Homo sapiens: one gene and its partners. The protein of the gene in region 3 interacts with the protein of the main gene of each other region in a biochemical or structural test. Each region holds a gene or a part of one and is shown on either strand. Other genes may lie near its edges.

Evidence for each region.
Region 1: the proteins of GAB1 (region 3) and MARK2 form a complex in vitro, tested with the Homo sapiens proteins (one study listed by BioGRID).
Region 2: of the proteins of GAB1 (region 3) and PTPRO, one has a biochemical effect on the other in vitro, tested with the Homo sapiens proteins (one large-scale study listed by IntAct).
Region 4: of the proteins of GAB1 (region 3) and PTPRG, one has a biochemical effect on the other in vitro, tested with the Homo sapiens proteins (one large-scale study listed by IntAct).
Region 5: the proteins of GAB1 (region 3) and SLA form a complex in vitro, tested with the Homo sapiens proteins (one large-scale study listed by BioGRID and IntAct).
Region 6: the proteins of GAB1 (region 3) and TNS1 form a complex in vitro, tested with the Homo sapiens proteins (one large-scale study listed by BioGRID and IntAct).
Region 7: the proteins of GAB1 (region 3) and TNS4 form a complex in vitro, tested with the Homo sapiens proteins (one large-scale study listed by BioGRID and IntAct).

The regions. Positions count from the first base shown.
Region 1 is NC_000011.10:63,905,110-63,908,314, forward strand, and holds part of MARK2 (serine/threonine-protein kinase MARK2), read left to right. Parts: intron 1-978; coding exon 979-1,005; intron 1,006-3,150; coding exon 3,151-3,195; intron 3,196-3,205. UniProt on the Homo sapiens protein: Serine/threonine-protein kinase. Involved in cell polarity and microtubule dynamics regulation. Phosphorylates CRTC2/TORC2, DCX, HDAC7, KIF13B, MAP2, MAP4 and RAB11FIP2. Phosphorylates the microtubule-associated protein MAPT/TAU.
Region 2 is NC_000012.12:15,514,508-15,518,007, forward strand, and holds part of PTPRO (receptor-type tyrosine-protein phosphatase O isoform a precursor), read left to right. Parts: intron 1-990; coding exon 991-1,111; intron 1,112-2,255; coding exon 2,256-2,449; intron 2,450-3,500.
Region 3 is NC_000004.12:143,441,376-143,444,875, forward strand, and holds part of GAB1 (GRB2-associated-binding protein 1), read left to right. Parts: intron 1-3,500. UniProt on the Homo sapiens protein: Adapter protein that plays a role in intracellular signaling cascades triggered by activated receptor-type kinases. Plays a role in FGFR1 signaling. Probably involved in signaling by the epidermal growth factor receptor (EGFR) and the insulin receptor (INSR).
Region 4 is NC_000003.12:62,295,340-62,298,109, forward strand, and holds the end of PTPRG (receptor-type tyrosine-protein phosphatase gamma isoform 1 precursor), read left to right. Parts: 3' UTR 1-2,270; downstream 2,271-2,770.
Region 5 is NC_000008.11:133,054,103-133,057,602, reverse strand, and holds part of SLA (src-like-adapter), read left to right. Parts: exon of another isoform or gene 1-2,644; intron 2,645-3,500. UniProt on the Homo sapiens protein: Adapter protein, which negatively regulates T-cell receptor (TCR) signaling. Inhibits T-cell antigen-receptor induced activation of nuclear factor of activated T-cells. Involved in the negative regulation of positive selection and mitosis of T-cells.
Region 6 is NC_000002.12:217,821,496-217,824,995, reverse strand, and holds part of TNS1 (tensin-1), read left to right. Parts: intron 1-3,057; coding exon 3,058-3,256; intron 3,257-3,500.
Region 7 is NC_000017.11:40,481,124-40,484,623, forward strand, and holds part of TNS4 (tensin-4 precursor), read right to left. Parts: intron 3,487-3,500; coding exon 3,361-3,486; intron 1,294-3,360; coding exon 1,201-1,293; intron 1,084-1,200; coding exon 1,006-1,083; coding exon of another isoform or gene 974-1,005; intron 1-973. UniProt on the Homo sapiens protein: Promotes EGF-induced cell migration by displacing tensin TNS3 from the cytoplasmic tail of integrin ITGB1 which results in dissociation of TNS3 from focal adhesions, disassembly of actin stress fibers and initiation of cell migration.

The DNA of each region.
Region 1 (3,205 bases), on a different chromosome or scaffold from region 3:
TGGGGGTTGGGGGTTGGGGTTTGGGACACTCTGTACCGGTATTGGGTCCTGGGGTTAGAAGAGGCTTCAGGAAGCACAAGAAATTAGGTCTTTGTCAACACCTTATGTGCCCAGGCCCACCCCTCTTAGGCCTCTCCCCAACTCCTCACAGGCACCCCTCATTCTCTGGCCCCAAGCAGATGGCCGATGCCGCCTCCTCTCTAGGAGAGTGTGAACTCAGATGCTAAAATAAAAGCCCCCCCTTCTCTCCTGGGTTCCCATGGAAACTTATATTTGGTGACGCAGCTGCAAAGTCATGAGGCATGAGCCAGGCTGGGGCCAGCAAGGAAAATTTTGTCCTGGTCTCTTGCCCCTTTGACTGCCTCTCCCACTAGTTGGTTCTGTTTCTGGCTGCAGGCGCAGCCATGCCCTTCTGCCCGGGGGTTTTAGGGTGAAACCTATAAATGAAATCACTGGCGAGGGCCTACAGTGGCCTCTTCCCTAACCTAACTCCGATGTGCCAAAGGTTTCCTGTGTTGGACCCAGGGTGGGGATCTCTTCACGGGGTTTCTCACACCTGAGCCCCCAGCCACCACAGAGGTGCAGCTTGAAGTGCATCCAGCCAACTGGCTGGCCTCCTGGGATGCTCCGCATCCCCATCCTGCCATTCCTCTCCCTGCCTTGGAGTAGCAGCTCAGGAAGCAGCAGGGGCTTTGAGAGAACAGGCTCGCCTGCCCTTCCTCTACGTTTCACTCCACTCTGCTGGAGGAGCCAAAGCCACTGCCCCATCCGAGCCCCAGAATGCAAGTGTGAGGCCTGCAGAGAGTGTGGGCAGGTCTGAAAGCCTGGGACTCTAGTCTCGCTGAGCGGCTCTTCCGAAAATGGGATGACCCTTGAACCTGTAAAGCCACCTCCCCCACCTGCTTATCCACATACCGTCTTGTTGGTTTTTTTTTTATTTCTTTTTTTATTTTGTCTTTTTTTTGTTTGTTTTTTTAGAAATCTGTCTTTCAGGTTTGCCAGAAGGTAGGCGTTGAGCCCGCTGTGTGTGTGTGTGTGTGTGTGTGTCTGTGTCCTGTGTCCTGCCTCCATCACTAACTCCCCTTTTCTGGCTCTTACTCTCCTCCATCTGCTTAACCAAGTCTGTGTGGCCCTCCTCTCTCTGCCATCTTAAAGGGATGAAGACTGCCTCTGATTGGGCATCAGCACAAGGCCTGCCCTCCGTGCCCCCAGTACAAACAGGCAGGGCTAAGAGGCCACATTGGCCCACTCAGGGCAAATGGCTTTAAAAATGAGGGCCTTCCTTGGGCCCACAGTTAACGCCTGTCCTCAAGTAAGGGGAGACTGTCTCAGGGAAGCCTCCCTTTAAGATTGTCTCCTCTCACCCACCCCACCCCACCCCCACTCCCTCTCACCCCAGGTTTTGGTCACAAGTGTTGGGATCCTTTCCTGCCCTTTCCCTTGTCATGTGCATGCGCTATGAGGAAGCTCCAGGGTTACAAGTGCATCTGGGATGGTATCTTGTTTGTTGTCTCCTGGGTTTCCTGAACTTCAGAGCTATGTGACCTCTTCCCCGTGGCCTATGGGATCGCAGGACTTTGGAGACACTACGGGGACCCTGGGGCCCCAAGGTTTCAGTCTGGCTCCCCCAGACCTTAGGAGCTTTTGTCTCACAAATGGAGCACAGCACCCCCTCCTGGCAGCTCCTGCAGAACTAGCCCCACCCACCCGCACCCCTGCCCCAGCACCCCTGCCACCAGCAGCATCTGGATAAATCAAGCCTCTTCTCCTCTAGGCTGTTTTCTCCAGATATGGCCTGTCTCTTCCAAAGTGCGGGGAGCTGGGACATTCTAGGGCAACGGCCATTCTACCCCAAGCCGTAGCAAAACAACAGGAGATCTCTGCACCCTTACTCAGGGGTCTCCCTTCACAGTCCCCTTCCTGGCTCTTTCACCCCTGGCCTTATGCTCATCCTCTCTGCAGGCCTCGGGGACCAAATACCAAGCTGAAGACCAAGGGCCAGGTTAAGAGTGCTTGTTCCCCAAGGCTGTCTGCTCAGGCCCTGCATTGGGACTGGGATGCCTGGCAGGCACATTGGTGCCACAGCTGATGGAGGAACGTCCAGACAGGGTCTTCAGGCTTTCCCTATCCCCTCCTCCTCCCACCCAGCTGTTGACTGCATGACTGGCTGCTGCCTCAAGGGGCCCCAGCAGGGGGCTGCCCCACAGGGGGTCTGGAGAGAGCAGGGAGGGTGCCTTCCTCGCACAGCCGGGCTCCCTGCTCGCAGTGCGCTTGTGTGCACCCCTGTGTTGGTTGTGTCTTCCTGTTTATTTCTATGTGCTGCTGCTCTTCCTCCTTCCTCTCATATCCTTCCTCCTCTGCAATCCCCAGTTTCCTAGCTCCAGACACCCATCTTCCAGCCAGGAGCTGGAGAAGCCGCTCAGCGGGGCCAGACCTCTTCCCCACCCACCCAACCAAGGTGTCTGCCCTGCCCTGCCCCACCCCACCCTCATCCTCCCTGCGTATGAGCAGATGGCCTGGCAGGCCAGCAGGTAGGGGAGTTGGGAAAGGTCGGAGGAGGCCGCCTTTTCCACTCAGCAGCAGGAAGCCATCCCCAGGTGCCTACCATGCAGACCCAGGCCTTGGCACTTTGAGTCTCCTGACAGGCCCTTGCGTAGCCACGGCCCCTCCTCCTACAGAGATTCAAAGCATTGCAGCCCCTTTCCTCCAAAAGGACTGCAGTCCTGAGACCCTAGCGTGTGGCTCCAAAAACGCACTCACACCTGCAACCCCCAGAACAGCGCGTGAGCCCTGGCTGTGGGGGAGCAGCCTCGTGCCGGGCCGTGTGCTCAGTGTGCTCAGTGAAGTGCGTGCACAGCCACTCCCCCTCCTCCCCCAGAGCAGAGGCTCCTTCTCCCCGGCACAGATCTGGGAATGTGGGGAGGGACAAGCCCCATGTGCTGGGCTCCCTGCTGGAAAGGAATGGTTGAGCCGCCAGTGTGAGGTGCTGCAGAGCCCTGTTGGCTTGCCAGGTGATGGGCAGAGGGCCCTGGGCTTGGGTCCTGCCCACCCACTGGTGGCACCTCCCCAGACCCACTCTCATCTGGGTCTGTGGCGGCGGAAGGAGCGAGAGATCCCAGCACTAAACTCTCCCTCGCTCTGTTTTTTGAGGAACCTGAATGAACCTGAAAGCAAAGACCGAGTGGAGACGCTCAGGTGAGAGGGC
Region 2 (3,500 bases), on a different chromosome or scaffold from region 3:
AAATGTTCTCTACAATATTATTTTAGGGGGCTACAACAGCCTGGCAGGGTGCTTACCAGGATATCTCGATGCTTAGCACAGTGACTTGCCCATAGTGTAGATTAAAGGTCCCAACACTAGGCTTCCAGTCCCAACACTGCATCTAAATATATGACCTTGGCCATTCTCTGGCTTTACTTTATTTATTAAATGAGCACTTTGGACTAGGTAATCTCTAAGGTCATTTCCATTTATTTATTTATTTATTTTATTTATTTTTTATTTTTGTTTTTTTGAGAGCTTGTCTCACTCTGTTGCCCAGGCTGGAGTGCAGTGGCACAAACTCGGCTCACTGCACCTCTGCCTCCTGGGTTCAAGCAATTCTCCTACCTCAGCCTCCTGAGTAGCTGAGATTACAGGCACCTGCCACCATGCCTGGCTAATTTTCTTTGTATTTTAGTAGAGACAGGGTTTCACTATGTTCGTCAGGCTGGTCTTGAACTCCTGACTTCAAATGATCTGCCTGCCTTGGCCTCCCAAAGTGCTGGGATTACACGCGTGAGCCACTGTTCCCGGTGGTCATTTTCATTTCTATAATTAGATATTATATGCTTCTAAGTGACAAGAGACTAAAGACATTTCCGTACTGACCTTTGTATGTAATCAGCTGACACCACAATTTAGAATGTCAAACTATCCTCATGGTATTGCTGATTTGATTATGGTTAGAGGCTGATGTGTCTCTAGTGTGCATAGTTATAATTGACACTGATGGGTATAAAGCAGTTCACAGGGCTTAGAACAGACAAAATTTGAATCTTCTAGGTTCCCTTCAATGTTCACATAAACTATAAATCATCCTAATTTTGGAATCTGACAGCTTCAGTAAAGCCTTCTGGATTTCAAAGTCATCTGTGATTCCAAAAAGAGTCTCTGAATATTATACCAGCCTCTGTGTAACATTCTGAAATCCCAGCTCTAAATAAATCTTATTGGGTGTTTGGTTTAAAGGTGAACTCAAGCAAACCTATTATTGAAAATCTGGTTCCTGGTGCCCAGTACCAGGTTGTAATATACCTAAGGAAAGGCCCTTTGATTGGACCACCTTCAGATCCTGTGACATTTGCTATTGGTAAGTTGCTAGCCACAAGAAGAATGACTGACCTATATATTAGGGTATTGACGGAGGGGTGCAATGTGCGAGCTCAAATCATTATCATCGTATTTGGAAGGTCCATATTAGTTCATCCAATATGCTACCTTCAGAGTAATAAATAACAAGAATTGTATACTTGGAAAACATTCTTAATATTTATTACTTGGGGAAAAAATCAGAGGCAAACATTCTTACTTTAGTTTTCAATGATTATACAACAAGAGTAAAGCTGTGTGCCGTGGCACACACCTACAGTTCCAGCTACTTGGGAGGCTGAGGTGGGAGGACTGCTTGAGCCCAGAAGTTGTTTGTTTTTTTTGTTTTGTTTGTCTGGTTTTTTTTTTGTTTTGTTTTTTTTTTTTTTTGGAGACAGAGTCTCGCTCTGTCACCCAGGTTGGAATGCAGTGGTGCAATCTCAGTTCCCTGCAACTTCTGCCTCCCAGGTTCAAGCAATTCTCCTGCCTCAGCCTCCTGAGCAGCTGGGACTACAGGTACATGCCACCATGCCTGGCTAATTTTTTGTATTTTTAGTAGAGACGGGGTTTCACCGTGTTAGCCAGGATGGTCTCGATCTGACCTCGTGATCTGCCCACCTTGGCTTCCCAAAGTGCTGGGATTACAGGCATGAGCCACCACACCCAGCCAAGCCCAGAAGTTTTAATCTAGCCTTGGTAACATAGCAAGACCCTGTCTCAAAAAAAAAAAAAGAAAAGAAAGAAAAGAAGAAAGAAAGAACGAACGAAAGAGAGAGAGAGAGAAAGAAAGAAAGAGAGAAAGGAGAAAAAGTGAGAAAGAGAGTGAGAAAGAAGAGAGTGAGAAAGAGAGAGAAAAAGAAAAAGAGAGAGAAAGGAAAGAAAGAAAAGAAAGAAAGAAAGAAAAAGAAAAGAAAAGATGAAAGGAGGGAGGGAGGGAAGAAGGAAGGGGGAGGGCAGGGGGAGGGAGGAAGGAAGGGGAGGAAGCAAGAAAGGGAGGAAGGAAGGAAGGAAGGAAGGAAGGGAGGGAGGGAGGTAGGTATTGTATCAGAGAGTGAAAACTCGGGTCATTAAGTAGAAGTTTGAGGCCATTGCTAAGACATTCCTTCTTAACTTTCTTTTTCTACCCCCTGCCCTCTTCTTTCTAGTTCCCACAGGAATAAAGGATTTAATGCTCTATCCTTTGGGTCCTACGGCCGTGGTTCTGAGCTGGACCAGACCTTATTTAGGCGTGTTCAGAAAATACGTGGTTGAAATGTTTTATTTCAACCCTGCTACAATGACATCAGAGTGGACCACCTACTATGAAATAGCAGCAACTGTTTCCTTAACTGCATCCGTGGTAATCTTCCCTTAACCAACTGTCAGTCTTTCCTATGGGAACAGGCAAACCTTTATGTACCAAATGTGTCTTTAAGAAATTATCTATAAATTTGATTATTTTGTAAATACACATAGTGTGTTAGTTCATTTTCACACTGCTGATAAAGAAATAGCCAAGACTGAGCAATTTACAAAAGAAAGAAGTTTAATTGGACTTACAGTTCCACGTGGCTGGGGAAGCCTCACAATCATGACAGAAGGCAAGGAGGAGCAAGTCATGTCTTATACAGATGGCAGCAAGCAAAGAGAGCTTGTGTAGGAAAACTCCCTCTTATAATAGCCATCAGATCTCATGAGACTTATTCACTATCACAAGAACGGCATGGGAGAGACCTGCCCCCAGGATTCAGTTACTTCCCACAGGGTCCCTCGCACAACACTTGGGAATTCAAGATGAGATTTGGGTGAGAACACAACCAAACCATATTATTCTGCCCCTTGCCCCTCCCAAATCTCATGTCCTCACATTTCAAAACCAATCATGCCTTCCCAACAGTCCCGAAAAGTCTTAACTAATTAACTCGAAAGTGCACAGTCAAAAGTTTCATCTGAGACAAGGCAAGTCCCTTCTGCCTATGAGTCTGTAAAATCAAAAGCAAGTTAGTTACTTCCTAGATACACTCGGGGTACAGGCATTGACACAGCTGTTCCAAATGGGAAACATTGACCAAAACAAAGAGGCTACAGGCCCCATGCAACTCCAAAATCCACTGGGACAGTCAAATCTCAAAGCTCCAAAATGATATCCTTTGACTCCGTGTCTCACATCCAGGTCATGCTGATGCAAGAGGTGGGTTCCCATGGTCTTAGGCAGTTCCACTCCTATGGCTTTGCAGCATATATCCCCCCTCCTGGCTGCATTCACAGGCTGGCATTGAGTGTCTGCAGCTTTTCCAGGTGCACAGTGCAAGCTGTCAGTGGATCTACCATTCTGGGGTCTGGAGGATGGTGACCCTCTTCTCACAGCTCCACTAGGCAGTACCCCAGTAGGGACTCTGTGTGCAGTCTCC
Region 3 (3,500 bases):
TATATGTAGCTTTTTAAGACCACATAATGTTGGCATCAATTTCTCCTTAACCTGGGCTTAGATCATTAATATTAGTTCTAATTAAGTCCTAGTTGTGAGGAAAAGAGACTGAGGCTCAGACTATCTTAAGAAAAAAGATTTGGTTTTGTTTGTAAGTAAGGATAACCTCCTCGTTTCAACAGGAGGTTAACCTCCTTCAACAAGGAGGTTATCAGGAACTGAAGCAATTCTAGGGGACTGTTGCTGTGTCCTGCTCTCTCTGTGCATTTCTGTTTTATGGGAAATCTTTGCATCTGGTTTGTTCTCTTTCACATTCTTCCCTTCTTTTCTGTTTTCTTTTCTGATTCTTTTTTGTTTTCTTACTCTGTATCCTCTACTTAAATGGATTCTGCTTTCCAAGAGCTTTGGCCTCCAATGCTCCCCTTCTATGGCCTCAGTTCTGCCTCCTAGCTGCTTTTTATGTGCCCTTGCAGCTTCTGCATCAGCTTCTCATTGCCTTACTTATTATTTACTCACTTTAGATTGCTTAGAGATGATGTGATTGGTCTATGTGTGTCACACCCACGACGACCCAGTCTGCCCTGGCAGCAGGGCTGTGATTGCGGTGTGGATCTCAGAAAGGATGTGAGCATCAGAGGCTTTCTATCGGATAATGCTTCCTTTTGTTTCCTTTTTCTTTGTCTCTAAATCTATTTTAGACAACTACTAGTCATTTTCTTTGCATATAATATGCAAAAATATGTTTGGACATGTATAGCTTTATAATTGGTTCATACAGATCACTGAAGGATTGAGATATAAGTGTCATGAACTCTTTGAAATATTGAAATATCTTTTTTAATGTTAAACTGGTGCTTTCCTTATTTTCCAGTAACGAGTGCATGTTAGTGGCAGATCTCTACTTTTTAACTCCAAACCTAACAGTTTTATATTTTGAGGTCTCGCATAAATGTGGAGGGAGTAAGATTTGGGTGAGGTTACAAAGCTTTTAAGTCCTACCTCCCTTGCTCCTCTGCTGCTCTTTTCTCCCCTTGAGCTCTGTAGAGCACAGTTTGAAAACTCCAGTATATTTCAACAGTTGTGATTCCATGTGGTAAGCATAATATGAAATCAGGAAACACCACTGTTTATAAGTTAGAAAAGACCTAAGATCAATTAATGATTAGCTTTTAGTATCCTCTAGGTCTGATATCACTCATGTATCCCACATTATTATGATATATATTTTATGTATATATCAGAATATATACTATGTATCATGTATACTACATATTTTATAATTATACATCCCTATGTATTTAGTGAAAGTACTATTATTCTAGTACACTAGAGACTAATCACACTAGTTCTTTAACGTAAAAGAACTTAATAGAACAGAATAAAGTAGGTTCTTATTTCTGGAGATTGTGTTCATTCTTTTAAAATTTAACTGAACTGTTCAGAGACAATTGTGAGTTCGTTGGCCACATTATTTATTTGGCATATTTGCTTAGATACAAAATGAACTTAAAAAGAGCACCCAGATTGAAATACCCATATAGTTTTTGCCAGAATCAAGAATAGACTTAGCAAAACAGTAAAGAGGTTCCTGAAGTCATAGTATTCAAAAAAAATTTACTTTTCTTTAGTACTATTTTACTTTTTTTTTTTTTTTTTTTTGAGACAGAGTCTCGCTCTGTTGCCCAGGCTGGAGTGCAGTGGCGCGATCTCGGCTCACTGCAAGCTCCGCCTCTGGGGTTCACGCCATTCTCCTGCCTCAGCTTCCCGAGTAGCTGGGACTACAGGCACCTGCCACCACGCCCAGCTAATTTTTTGTATTTTTAGTAGAGACGGGGTTTCACCGTGTTAGCCAGGATGGTCTCGACCTCCTGACCTCGGGATCTACCTGCCTCGGCCTTCCAAAGTGCTGGGATTACAGGCGTGAGCCACTGTGCCCGGCCTGTACTATTCTACTTTTTAAATAGTTATGATACAGGAGAGGAGGCTTGAGAATGTATTTAACATTACAAGGCAGACTTTGTAAACTCACTTTACAAAGTTATGACTTCATAAACTCACTTTACAAAGTTATAACTTCAAGAAAAACACATTTTAAAATCCAAATTCAGATCTCAAAGCAAAGTTTATCCACAAACACTTAAACAAAAATAATGTCTCGTTTGGTCCTATAATTTTTCTCAGTATTCATAGCATCAGATGAATCTATTTTAATTTCAAATTTCATGACATCAGATAAATGACTTAATCTATTATTCAGTATCTCTTATATAAAACTCATTATAAGCAAATCTAATTCTATAAAATATGGCTTGATTAGTTTCAGAGCTCCATATAACTAGTTCATTGCCCTATATGTCTGGTTTTTGAGATTGTCTTTGGAAGGATCTATAAGAAACCAGTAACATTCTAGTCTTGTTTATAGCCCCAATTATAGATGTCAGCTGCTGTAGTTTGCATACAGATGAGCTTTTCAAATACTTATGAGTAATTGAAACTGCAGAAATACATAGATGTTCTGAACACTTAAACATAATTATCTTAGACCCTTTGCCTGTCACTCAATTCATGATAGTGATATTTTCATCATACTATTTCTGTCACTGTAGTGTTTGTTTTGAGCCAAGTTTTGTGTGTATTAAGAGAAACGTATTTTAAGCATACTGTATTAAATATTGGGAAAGCAGATGAGTCACTGGAAATACAGGACAAATTATATTTTGACCTCTTCAATTGAAAATTTTATATTTCTGATGGAAAGGGAGTTTTGTAAAGTTTGGGAAATTTATCTGTTATAGCTTCTCTTTATGTCATGACATAAATCTAGTATATTAAATCGCTAAACTTATCTAAGGCCCCCATCTCTGTCTAGTCTCTGTCTAGCATGATGCAGCAGCTGTGTGAGCCCCACATGCTGTCTTTATGTTGTTATGTTTGGCCTTGTCCATTCACGCCTTTCTGCAACAGTCTGAACATTAGTTACTATACTGACTTTTTTTTGTTAAGCCAGTGCAAGGTTTTGTATGGTGTTTTTATACACCACTTTGGTTAAAGTACCTTCAAGCTTAGATCCTTAATATTGTGTGGGGAGCATACAGAAGACTAATCCTGAGAGTTTCCCTGGGTGACTCTTTTGGCACAGTGATGGATTTGCTCTAAACATTTTTTCAAGAGATCTTTTAAAGTTTCTGAATGTGATTAAAAATTAACATGCACTTTTTAAAATTTTTATTCTTTTGTATTTCAATTTTTATTTTAGTTTTAGGGGGGTGCATGTGCAGGTTTGTTACCTGTGTATATTGTGCGATGCTGAGATTTAGGGTATGAATGATCCTGTCACTCAGGAACTGAACATAGCACCCAATCGTTAGTTTTTCAACCCTTTCCACCTGCCTCCTTCCCCTCTCTGGTAGTACCCAGTGTCTGTTGTTGCCATCTTTATGTCCATGTTTAGCTCTCACTTGTAAGTGAGAACATGTGATATTTGGTTTTCTGTTCCTGCG
Region 4 (2,770 bases), on a different chromosome or scaffold from region 3:
TTAGATGTATAGAGTATTGATATGAGTTAACACTTTTTAGTAGATGGCAAAGTGGGCTTGATGTTCAAAAGTAATGTTCGAGTTAGGGTTCATGGTCCCTTTCTCAGTAATTTTTTCTTAATAAAAGTAAACACTGGTTCAAAGACAAATAGCAAGTATTCCCTCCTGTGCTATTTATAGAGGGCTCAATTCGTAGAAAGGCATACCCTCCAATGCAATTCTGTGGCTGTCCCTTACAGTGGTTTCAGAATCACGAAAAAACAGCTAGTAAATAGGATAGAAACAATAAAAGAAAGAGTTTAGAAGTTCCCTGTGAGCAATCTGTGTGTCTTCAGCGAGCTTGAACCAAAGTCTTCATATCCTGACCCACTGAATTATAAGCAATTGCTACTTGCCCATCTTGCCAAAGTAGTCCAAACACACTTCAATGAGGACAGTTATATTTAGCAGGTCCTCACCCCTGCAAGAGACAGCATATCCTCACTATTATTATTCATGTGTTATTGGCAAAAACATAGCTTGCATCTTTCCAGAGGCAGAGTTTCAAAGACAGGGTTTTCTTTGAGACATAAGCACATTGCTTAAGTACATAACAAGGTTATTAACACTTGCACTCAGGGGAAAGGAAATAGCTATTGCAAATTAATGTGTGCAACTTAATAAAATAAGCTGTTTGTGTATATGAATTTAGCTCTAGGTAAGCAAAATGCACACATCATATAAAAATAAATTGCAATGATCAGACCAAGTGGCTGTGCTGGACATCAAAGAAAAGACATGCTGTTGCCATCAGGAGAACTCTTTCTTATATGCGATAGCCAAGATATCTTCTTTAATATGAAAAAAGTTAATTTCTGAATTTCAAAAAGAGTAAGATTAGCTAATTGGTCTTCCTAATTTTTATGCCTTTAGAGTTTTTAGTCTATTCAAGTAGAAGAGTCCAGCGAGGCCAAAGAAGGGTTACGGTGTTCAAGTTCTGGTTGTTGGAGTTTTTAGCCCAGAGTGACATACTGAAATCAGTAAATAATTATTTTATAATGACACAGCACAACTGCCTTGTTATGAATTTTTCTTAAATGCATATATACTGTATTTAAAATTAAAATATAGATACCAATTTACCAAAGATACATATTACTAATTCTAAGCAAAACTAAAAAAAAAACCCAACTCATCATAATTTAAGAATCAAAATGTAGTTTGTCTTAAGAATTTAGTGGTTATACTGGAAATGCATTTTCAACTCCTATGTTCTAAAGTTTATGTTCAAATGGTGCCAGTGAATTTTTATATGAAGGGAAAATGCCTGCTTTTTTTTTTTTTTTAACAGATGTAATTTCACTTAACCCTTTGCGCTTTCCCTTAGTTGTCATTTAACATACAATACTGGCTTTACTTATCTCTAGAAAGAAGAAGGCATGCTACAAATAGGAAGGAATTGTAATAATGATATTTGGCCTCTACTTTGTCTTAGCTGTTAAACTGTTTTTAGTATTTTTGTTAAATATTTGCAAAGGGAAGCATTTTCTACAGAGGATAATTAATTTCAAGAAAAATATCTTGAGTTTTAAGAAATAAACATCTCCAGAAAAGGAGAAAGTCGATTTTATAAAATGTCGCAACTCTCCAACATTTGGGGTAGTGACTCCTTTTTTGTTAGGACATTTGAAACTAGCAAGCAGCCATTGTTTCTAAAGAATTCTGGCTTCACATTGACTCATGTTTCTTTCACTCCATTTTGAAATAGCTAAAAATCATTAAAACTGTAAATATTTTGTTGCTTGGGTAAGCATCTTCTGGGAACTTTGTATCTATGGTATATAATCATAGAATTTTATATTTTCATATAAAGCTAATTTTTTTCTAGTTTCAACTCCGTCATAGTTTTTTTTCCTTTTTGTGGTGGATATGTGAATTCAACTTTCTGTGTATTGAAGTAGCAAAAACCATCTTTACATTCCAAAAGAATCCAACATGTGTTATTTCTTTGAGGCAGTGATTGTGAAAGTTGGGTTTTCTTTTTAATTCCATTGACCATTTGTGCAATAGGAATTAGACATAATTAGTCACTGAAAACATTCGTCACATTGACCCATTTGGAAAAAGTGTGCTTTTTTTTTTTTTTTAAATTTGTTCAGGGGGAGGGGTTTTGTAACCTGAAATTTTTCCCTTTTTCTTCTGTTTAAACTATATCAAATCATTCTATTATAGTGTTATTTAATATGTAAATTGTATTGCTATACATAAAATAAAGTATGGTTTTTGATGTATTCAGTAGTGTTGAGCATTTCTATGAAAATGTCTATATCCAATAAAATAGGTTACTAGTCTCCCTTAACAGATCACATTAATACCCACCAACCCTCTGGTCTAAGTTTTCATGGTAGTAAAATGAACATTGGTAGTCGTCTTTACACAGGCAGCAAACCAAAAAGAATGGTCTTTGCTGGGTTGATTTATCAACGTTCTTTCTCCTTTAAAGAGTAAACAATGACAGTTTTACCTGCTCATCTAAGGAATCAAACTTTATTCAGTTTATGACTCTGCTGCTAAGTTGTGAACAGAATTACTATTTTCTCTAGTGTATCAACTAGGTTTGTAACAACTCTCTTAATATTTACGAGGTAGGATGAAGGATATATCCTGGCAAGAGTTCTGGAGAATCTATATGTGTAAGATCAGTACAATTGCTTCTACTTAACAAGAACTTTTGACATTTCCAAACAGGTATACAAGTCCCAAACTTGGCAGCTTTGGCCTACCATTCTGT
Region 5 (3,500 bases), on a different chromosome or scaffold from region 3:
TTTAGGTGAGTCACTCGGGCTGCCCCAGAGATCTGGAACAAGTCCCTCCTCACAGCGACAGCATGATGCAGGGCAGGCACCAGCAAAGAAGGGTGTGGAAACTTTTAAAAACTCTGTTTGGGGTTACCTGACTGCACCAGGTTATATCTAAATGGCCATTCCCCAAAAGTTTTAAAGTGGTGAAACTGGTAGTTCTGTAATTTGCTTTCAAATCATCCCAAAGTGTTCATTTTCTCTACAATTCTATACATACTTCTGTACCAGACATGGGCAGTACAGGATTTTTTAATACAACCTAGGGAAGTCCCGCTGTGGTCAGGAAATGGCATATTTCCACCTTAAAATGAGCACTCTGTCTCTCTGCTGTGATCTTTTTCCCCTCTTTGTTCCTTCTCTTCTTATCACCCTGACCTGAAGAGGCACCAACAGAGGCAGCAGCACAGACCCCTTTCTGTCCGTGCAAGGGTAGAAATAATGCTGTTTACATAGTTGCCCAGTGGAAAGAAGGGGGCGGGTGGGGCTCGGGGAAGGAAGAAGGAGGTAGGGACCTCTCAAACCCAGCTTGCAGCTTCTCAGTAAGTGGTCTTCGCACCACCTGCATCAGAATCCCCTGGGAAGTAACTGAAATGCAGATTCCTGGGTCCCACCCCAGGCCCACGAATCAGAACCTGGGGATGGTGGAAGGTAGCCGCCAGCTGAATTTCCTAGGAGTTCCTGGGGACTCTGTAACCCCTAAAGCTTGCAGACCACAGACCAGCTTTTAGTCCTGCCCCTGCACTGACACACAACGAGAGATGAGAAAGAGTTTATCTCCTTAGTCTCTCTGTCCTCCTTTGTAAAACGGGAATGATTAGAGCCGCTTGGTGCTCACAGCCTCCAGACACAGTGCCCAGTGCTTTACATATGCAGACTCGATTCTCACAGCCCCACGAGGCTTCTGCCTATTATCATCTCCGTTTTGCAGTTGGAGAATCTGAGGTACAAGAAGCTTAAATGACTTGCCTTAGGCCATACAGCTCAGAGGAGACAGCTGGGATTCAAAGCCAGGTGGTCTGACTCCAGGGTCCCTCTCCCCACCTCAGTGTGTGCCTGGAAAGGACAGGGTTTCAAGAAGCCCCCATGCTCTGGAAGAGGATGGGCTCGTCTCGAATGAATGAGAATGTGCCTGGCCCCCAGATTTAATGACCCAGATGATCAAGTGCCCTAGCAAGGGGTCCCACAGACAGTGAATCCGTGTCAAATCTTGGACCAGATCCCTTTTTTCTATTTGAATCTAACCTCGCTGCTGGTACATGAGATGGTCTTAGGCAGAACTTGATCATTCAACTTTTACATAATTGTACATTGATGAACATCATAAAATATATAACTAGCCCAAGAAATCCACGATGTCACATTGCTTAGAATAGCACTCAAGTTTTTTTAAGTAAATTAATTTTTAAAAAGACATTATCAAGTAACTAGTGCTGTCAACTATGTCAAAGGAGACCTGAGTGGTTCAAACACAGCCATGCCCTGCCCTGCCCAGGGAGACCTGGTTTTGAAACCTGGCACTCAGCTTCCTAGGTGTGTGCTCTTGGGCGGTCTCTGGACCTCACTGTGCCTCTATTTCCTCATACTCAAAATAAGGTAGTTTCAATCTATCAACCTCACAGGGAGGCGTGAGGACTTCAGGGGTAACCTCGGTACCACCACAGCCCAGTGCCTGATTCCCCCCAGAGCTGTGCGCCCTGCTGCTGCTGCTGCTGCTGCTGCTGCTGCTGCTGCTGCTGCTGCTGGTGATGAGGAGGGGGAGGAAGGGAATGGTGGAATGAAAACAACTGAAGTCTGAGAAGCCCTGGGTGCCCAAGTAAAGCACATTCTGAGTCTATGCAGTCCAAAATATTCATTTTGACTATTTCTTGCTTCTGTTCTGTGCTAGCCCTGCCTATATCCCTCTAGCATCTAAGAGAGTTGAGACTGACCCTGAAAAGACTCAAGGTCTGTTTAGTTCCAATCTGTCCCCACTAACATACGGAAAAACCAAGGCTTGGGCAGAAAAGAGCTTTGTGGGCTACCGGGTCTCAAACACAGCCCTTTACATATGACTAAGAGGGCTCACAAGCCTGGTTCATGGTGACCCGCAGAACTCGGCAGACCTTCTACCAGGCTAGATGGTCCAGCTCTGTGTGATTGGTTAGTTGCATGTATAATCCTGTGTGTGTGTGTGTGTGTGTGTGTGTGTGTGTGTGTGTGTGCGCGCGTGCGTGTGTGTGTCCTGAAGATGACACTGAAAGTCAGGCCTGCTTTGACCCCTGAGGAGACCATGAGTTTAGCCATGACTCCAGGAAATGCAAAACAAGAGGCTGCAATCCCTGGGCTGTACAGCTCCCTACCCACCAGTTGCCCTGAGCTGCTTATGCTAACCCTGACAACTTACCTGGAGTCTGCCTTTGTCTCCCCTGTTAAGGGTCAAGTGTGGGCTGAGGAGAGCTTGAAGATTAAGTGCCAAGGAGAGCCGTGTGGCTCCGTGAAGGACCCTGGGCTTTGAAATCTTCACACTTTCCCCTAGATAGGTGACTAAAACTCTCCCAGCTTTGGCTTCTTCACCCTTAAATAATCACGTATTTTCTGTAGGGCTGGGCAGGGCACTGGAAGTGACAAACGACTAGTTTTATTAGACAGTTATAAGTGGGAGTGACTGAGAATGTTCTCAGCATTTAAAAAGAAATGGTCATGCAGCACCAAAGAATGACAGTTTACAAAAGGGCCCGTCCTCTCTTGACTAAGTCCCGTAAGGCCTGCCTGGGTCCCTCCCCTTTGTGGATTCGTTTCCTATTTTACGCTTTTGTACATTTTGTTCAACTTGACTCATTCTTAAGTTGAGCTATCAGCAAATATTTGGTCTTTTGAATTTCATCTTCTGTTCTCACCAAGTGGAGTTCATTTTTAGAGAGTAAGAAATTATCAAGTTTACTAGTTTGCAAATTTTAGAAAGTTATTGGCTAACACTGGTCTTGAGTTATGGTCTGGTGACCCCGCTCTCCATGAAAATAATATTAGCTTCCACTTACTAAGGCAGGCCCTAAAATGCAATGCATCCTGAATCCTTCACTCAATCCTATGAGGCAGATTTTGGCAATTTCCCTTTTTATTCACGAAGAAATCAAGCTCAGATTAGTTAAAAATAAATCTCCCCCCAAATCGCATCACTGTGTAGTGGCGGAGGTGGGATGTAAGCCAGTTCTGATTGGTTTCAAAGCCCCATTCTCTTTCCCGAAAATTCTCTCTGGGTTTCTTCTTTCATGCGCAGTGCATATGTCTTCACTTAATTTGTTTCCTTATCTTAAGTCTGCAATAATTCCACTGACTTCCTCAACTCTCCTCTTCTCTGCCTCACTCATTTATCTCTGCTTGAATTCAAACGCTGAGCTCTCCATAAAGCTAAGGAGTTCTAGGAGTAGATGATAATATGTCTCACCTTTACCAACAAACTTAAATTTCCTACATTGCATTTATTT
Region 6 (3,500 bases), on a different chromosome or scaffold from region 3:
TAAGGATCATGCTTCTGTGACTTTGTGGAGCACATGCAGATTGAGGGCCTGCTGTGTGCCAGGTGCTGTGTGAGGGCTCGGCACACAGATCAGCTAGGCAGGCTCTGGGAGCCCACGGGCAGCCAAAGAGTGGCTTTCTCTCCCTGGCTGGGAGAGAGGTGGTGCCGAGAGCCGTGGGGACCTGGGTGTAGCCATGATGAGTGCCTGGAAGGGTCTGGGAAGAGTTTTCAGAGAGTGACCTAGGGTGGCAAGAGACGGGAGGGGAGAGTGGACTCTGATCTTGGGTGTCATTTGCATGGCTGTGGGTGAGACTCCCTCTGATGTTCTCTTCTCCCAAGTTGGGTTACCAGTTGCCCAAGACTAAAGACACTCACTGAAACTATTGGCTTCCCGACTTGCAGAGGGTTGTATGTGCAGTGGGTAAGGGCAGGTTGGGGCCAGACTGCCTGGGTTCCTTGGCTGACTGTGCCCCTTGCCAGCTGTGACCTGGGCAAGGTACTTACATCCCCCGAATCCTACTTTTCCTGTATAATTGTTTGCTCTTTTTATCACTAGGAATAGCCCTATGGAGTTGGCTTTTCTCTGCCTGATGGGCTGAAGTGCTGGATAGAGCCAGCTCTGGGTGTCCTGTGAGCCTATGGGCCCTGTCTAGGTCACCCAGAGCCAGCTTGTGAGTCTGGAGACTTTGGTGCTAGTGTTCACTGCCACTAATTATCCATGTGTCCTGGCGCACGGCTCCACCTCTCTGGGCTGAGGAGATAGGTTAGATCAGGGGTCAGCACACTGTGGCAGCTGGTCAGATCCTGTCCACTGACTATTTTGGTAAAGAAAGTTTGATTGCAACCCAACCATGCCCATTCACTGTCCTGTTGTCTATGTAAGCTGTCACACCACAACAGCAGAGTTGTGTAGTTGCAACAGTGACAGCCTTACCCACCAGCCTAAGATATTTACTATTAAGTCTTTACAAAAAAGTGTACTGGGCCTGGTCAGGGGATATCTGCATTGTCTTCTAGTTCCAGCAGAGCCTCGTGCTTGGGTGGCACAGAATCCATGCCTTTGGTATGAATTTGGCCTGGGCCTTCTGCGAGGAGGTGGGTGGCCTGGGCTGGTTGAGGGAGGATTTCGAGGAGGCCTTGCTGGCACTGCCTACATGGATTCCAGCTTTGGGTGCCGAGGTGCCTGGTTCTACATCACCTTGTGCCTGCTACCTAGAATAGACCTCCCGTGCCTGCCTCTTTGCAGACAAACTGCCCCAGCCTTGTCCACTGTCTTGCTGTTGGGTGGAGGGGGTTCTGTATGGGGACAAAAGACAGACGGGCAGGCTGTGGCTGGAGCTGTGTGCAGACTCCATTGCAGCCTCTGGGTCCTGCTCTGTAAAGGGTCCTGTGCTGAGGGACCATCCTCTTCCGGGGTCTAGAGAGGCCTCTGGCCTGGGTGTAGGATGTCAGACCTGAGGGCCACCCCAGAAGCCACTCCACGGAGGCCATGCCCCTATGCAGCAAAGGCTGGAAGCACCCTGCTAGCACCCTGGTGACTAGGCTCCTTCCAAATTAAGGTTTTCTTTGGGCTAAGGGGAGGAAGGTTGCATTTCAGCTAGCTGGACCCCAGGCCTGTCACCCATGAGGGACCTGGAGGAGGGACCTGGAGGACCTGACTATTTTGGTAAAGAAAGTTTGATGGCAACCCAGCCATGCCCATACACTGTCCTATTGTCTATGTAAGCTCTCACACCACAACAGCAGAGTTGTATAGTTGCAACAGTGACAGCCTGACCCAACAGCCTAAGATATTTACTATTAAGTCTTTACAAAAAAGTGTACTGGCCCTGGTTAGGGGATCTCTGCATTGTCTTCTGGAGGAGACCTGGAGGAGGGGGCTCTTCTCCAACTCTGACCATTGCAGTCTTGGCCAGCAGGGGCTGCAGGGGCCTGGCCTCCTGAGGGATGCACAGACTCTGGTTCTTCAGTTTCTCAGGCTGATTTCAGTGGATGCCTTAGTTGTGGGCAGTATGGCTCTGTACTCAGGCCAGGTTCCTCCTGGGTAAGACAGGGACAGGGTGGGATTTGGAGGTGGTAGGAATGACATTCCTCCCGGATCATGGCCCGGGGTAAACAAGAGCGTTCTGTTGCTTCTTCCTCTTTCAAGCGGAGTTCGTTTGGGAGCTGGCCTCAGAGGCCGTAGAGGAGTTGGGCAGGTGCCGGTCTGGGAGTCGGGCCATCTGGGGACCTAGTCATTTCCCTTGTCGGGCCTCAGCATCCATCCTTATCTGTAAAATGGCCTTTTCTAGCGTGTGTCCCCCACCCCCTCTTAGGCTGTTTTGAACACCAGGTAGTGCCGTGTATAATGAGGTCCTCTGTAAACTAAACTGCTCAGTGCTACAGGAATGCCAGAGGTGGGCGATGGAATGTTGAGTTCCGCCTGGGAATGGGGTTCCCTGATGCCAGTCTCTAGAGGAATGCTGAGTGTGTCAGGCAGAGAGGGGTGGGTGTGTCTTGGCATCAAAGGGGCTGGTGAGTCTACAGCAGCCCCACAGGGCAAGACTCACCAGTGCAGGCCTGTTGCTAGGTGGCCAAGGCTGTTTCTGGATTCTGGGCAGGGGGTGGAGCTCACATGAACTCTGGCACTATCCTGGGATACAGGCAAGGCAGGGATGGACCTCTGGGCCCACTGTAGGGCCCCAGACTCTAGTGGCACGAGGAGAACCTGGAAGGGCCTGGGTGCTGAGCAAGATCATTGAAGAAAGAGAGCAGCCAAAGGGGGTGCCAGCTATGGACAGCCTCCTAGTCCTTGGAGGGAAGAGTCTCTGATGGCCATGTTCTGAGGCGGGGCCTGGGATCCATTTCAGGGCCCCCTCCTCTGAGCAAGGCCCTGGTGAAAGGTCACTGCAGGGCAGGGTGGGTCTGGGCAGGCAGGAGCCCTGCCTGTCCTTTGGGGGCTATTCCTATGTTCCCAGGCAGGAGTCCAGGAAGCTGTGTTCCAGGGGAGGTTGGGGGGGACCTGCACTGCACCCCTGTGCATCTGTGCTCAGTGTCTCTGTCCTCTTGCCCCTTCCAGAGCCCCGGAGCTATGTGGAGTCTGTGGCACGGACAGCGGTGGCTGGACCCCGAGCTCAGGACTCTGAGCCCAAGAGCTTTAGTGCTCCAGCCACCCAGGCCTATGGCCATGAGATACCCCTGAGGAACGGGACCCTGGGTGGCTCCTTTGTCTCCCCCAGCCCCCTCTCCACCAGCAGCCCCATCCTCAGTGCTGACAGGTAAGCCGGGAAGGGGCAGTGGGTGGGGGATGGGAATCCGGGCCTGGGACTGGGACGGGATGGGTGAGGCCTCCTGGATCTGTTGCCTATGGCGTGGACAGGCAGAAAGCATACCCAGATGGCGGTACCTTGCAAACCAGTTCATCAAGGTGCATTGAGGGCACATGTCCTGCGCGCTGAATCCTGTGGGGAGCCCAGTGACCTATAATTCCCAGGCCGCATTCAATTCCGCCCATCCAAAACT
Region 7 (3,500 bases), on a different chromosome or scaffold from region 3:
CTCTGGGGCTCCCTTGCCTTGATGCCCTTCCAGAAACAGCCCTTCTCGAGCTTCTCCTGCACACCCCTGAGATGATCTATTTCATCTGAGCTGCCCCCCTACCTGGCTGTATGCTCTGGATAGGGCATGCTGATCTGGGTTCAAGGTCTGACTCTGTGGGCCTTTGGGCAAATTACGTAACATCTAGAACCCTCGTTTTCTTTTCCTTCCTTTCCTTCCTTCTTTCTCTCTTTCTCTCTTTCTTTCTTTCTTAGATGAAGTCTTGCTCTGTCGCTCTGTCACCCAGGCTAGAGTGCAGTGGTGCGATCTTAGCTCACTGCAACCTCTGCCTCCCCGGCTCAAGTGATTCTCCTGCCTCAGCCTCCTGAGTAGCTGGGATTACAGGCGCCCACCACCACGCCCAGCTAAATTTTTGTATTTTTAGTAGAGACGGGGTTTCACCATGTTGGCCAGGCTGGTTTCGAACTCCTGACCTCAAGTGATCTGCCCGCCTTGGCCTCCCGAAGTGCTGGGATTACAGGCGTGAGTCACCACGCCCAGCCCTTATTTTCTTATCTGTGAAATGGGGATGATAACAGCAAAGTCTACTTCACAAGCTTGTAGTGAAGCATGAATGGGTGAGTGAGTGCTCAACAAATGCTGGACCTGGAAAGAGAAAACCTCTCCAAACTATTTGATTTAGGCTCTTTCACCCTCTCAAAGCAGGCTGCTATTTATCCAACATCCATTCTATGCCAGGCATTGCGCTAAGAGCCTTGCCCGGGCTATCTCTTTCGGTCTGCACAGCAATCCTATAAGTAGGTATGATGAGGAAACTGAGGCTCAGAGAGGTCAACATTCTCAAATTTTCACAGCTAGGAGGTGGAGATGTTGAGCGACTCCAGTGCACACAGTTTTAACCGTGACACTAAAATAATCCACCAACAAGGTAGGAGTGAACCCCATTTCTAATGAGAACAAACAGGTCCCCCACCTTGGCATTGCCTCTTTGGGGCCCAGACCCACCTCTCTGTGGGATGGTGAGTTTGCAGGGCAGGGCCAGGGCCATGATGGAATGCTGGCACACGAAGGCAGAGAGGCTCCCTGAAAGGAAGCAAGCAGCCCTGCATGAGTAGAGCTTCCCCAACCCACCCCTCAGCTCACAACGGAGACTTCGCTGGCCCCCCATCCCGGGGGAGCCTGGAGGCTGGGGAGTCTCACCAAAGTAGGGCTCCTCATCTGCTCCTTTGAGATGCACTCCTTTGGCAGACGACTCGATGAGGAAGTGTCGGATGAGGTCATTGCTGTCCTCACCTGGACAGAGAAGAAAGAGTGCATTCGGATAGAATTCCACCTTGTGGCCGGGCGCGGTGGCTCACGCCTGTAATCCCAGCACTTTGGGAGGCCGAGGTGGGCAGATCACTTGAGGTCAGGAGTTCGAGATCAGCCTGACCCACATGGTAAAACCCTATCTCTACTAAAGACACACACACACACACACACACACACACACACAGTCACACACACAAAGCCGGGCGTGGTTCACATGCCTGTAGTCCCAGCTACCCGGGAGGCTGAGGCAGGAGAATTGCTTGAACCTGGGAGGCAGAGGTTGCAGTGAGCCGAGATTGTGCTACTGCACTCCAGCCTGGGTGACACAGTGAGACTCTGTCTCACCGGAAAAAAAAAAAATTCCACCTTGTCCATCCCCCTGCCTCTCCCTCCCACAGAGGAGGTGCCAACACATCTGCTCAATGGCTCCAGCCACACCCTCTTCAGGAAACCTTTCTCTTCTTCTTTTTTTGGGGGTGGGGTGGGGAAACCTTTCTGCTGGTCAAGAGTTATCAGGGATTTTTTTTTTTTTTTAGACAGAGTCTTGCTCTGTCTCTTAGACTGGAGTGCAGCGGCATGATCTCGGCTTACTGCAGCCTCAACCTCCTGGGCTTAAGGAATCCTCCCACCTCAGCTTCCTGAGTAGCTGGGACTACAGGCGTGCCCCACCATGTCGGGCTAATTCTTTTGTAGAGACAAGGTCTCACTATTTTGCTCAGGCTGGTCTCGAACTCCTGAGCTCAAGCAGTTCTCCTGCTTCGGCCTAGGGATTATTTTATTTTATTTTTTTTAGACAGGGTCTCATTCTTTGGTCTAGGAAGGAGTGCAGTGGTGTGATCATGGCTCACTGCAGCCTCAAAGACCTCCTGGGTTCAAGTGATTCTGCTGCCTCAGGCTCCCAAGTACCTGGGACTACAGGTGTGCTCCACCACACCTGGGTAATTTTTGTAGCGACAGGGTTTTGCCATATTGCTCAAGCTGGTCTCAGATTCCTGGGCTCAAGTGATCCTCCTGCCTCGGCCTCCCAAAGTGCTGGGATTACTGGCGTGAGCCACTGTGCCTGGCAAGGAAACTTCTTAATTATTTAGATAAATGTCGACTCTTTGGTCTGGTTTCTGTCTCCCCCTGCCCACCAGGTCATCTCTGCTGGAGCCACGCTGGCCCCGGGGGTGGGGAGGTGAACAATGACCTTCTGACTCCTTTCCACCAGTCCACAGTGTCCTCCTCAGTCTGGGCTCATTGCCTCTTGCAAGGCGTCCTTTATAAGTAACACCCTCCCCAGAGGTCACTTTCTTATTGTGACAGTGAGGCATACTGTCAAGAACACAAGGCTGGGTGTTTCATCCTCCCTTTATCACTTAATTGCTCTGGAGTCATTAAGTAACTCTGGGAGCCTCCGTTATCTCATCCGTTAAATAAGAAGGTGCAATCCTGGGGTTTGAGTGAGGCCTATGACCCAGGTACCTTGTACTGTAATCATCTGTTTTCATCTGTCTCCCTAGTGAGGTGGTGTCTGTGTCTGATTCCACTGTATCCCTGCTGCCTCACACAGTGCCTGGTGTGTGGTGATGCTCCATAGATGTTTGCTATCAAATAAGCATGGGAGACCACAGGAAAGCATATAAGCTATCACACACATGTGCGCTGAGCTAGTACACAAACCTGGTAAGCTATCACCTGTGAGATAAGCTAGCTGCGTGTGTAATCACACATTAGGTTCCCTGGAAATGAATCCAGTTTGACTCCAAGAAGAGCAGCCTAGAGGGGGCTAGGACCCTCCTCCTTCTCTCCCACCATCAGAAAAAAGCAGGGAAGTGGGGGTGGGGCTCGGGAAGGCAGAAGCACGCAGGCTTGCTGTGAAAGGCGTTTTTCAGGGTGCCTTGGGGCTGGAGGGCATCGGGGAGAACACTGGGGTGGACGCTTCTCCTAGGAGCTGTTATAAGACTGGCGCCATGTCACCCTGAAAGCTAGTGCCAGAGCCAGGACTGGAACCTACCACACCCCGCTGCCTCAGTGAGGCCTTGAGTGAGCACAGAGACAGACGCATACCTGGTCGACTCTGAGCAGACGCGGGAACCTCCTGCACCTTCAGGGCCAGGCCGAAGGAGCCTCGGTATGAAGAGCTGTCCCTTATGACAAAAGCCCCTGGCTCCTCCTTCCTCAGCAGCTCGATTGCTGGAACAATCCTT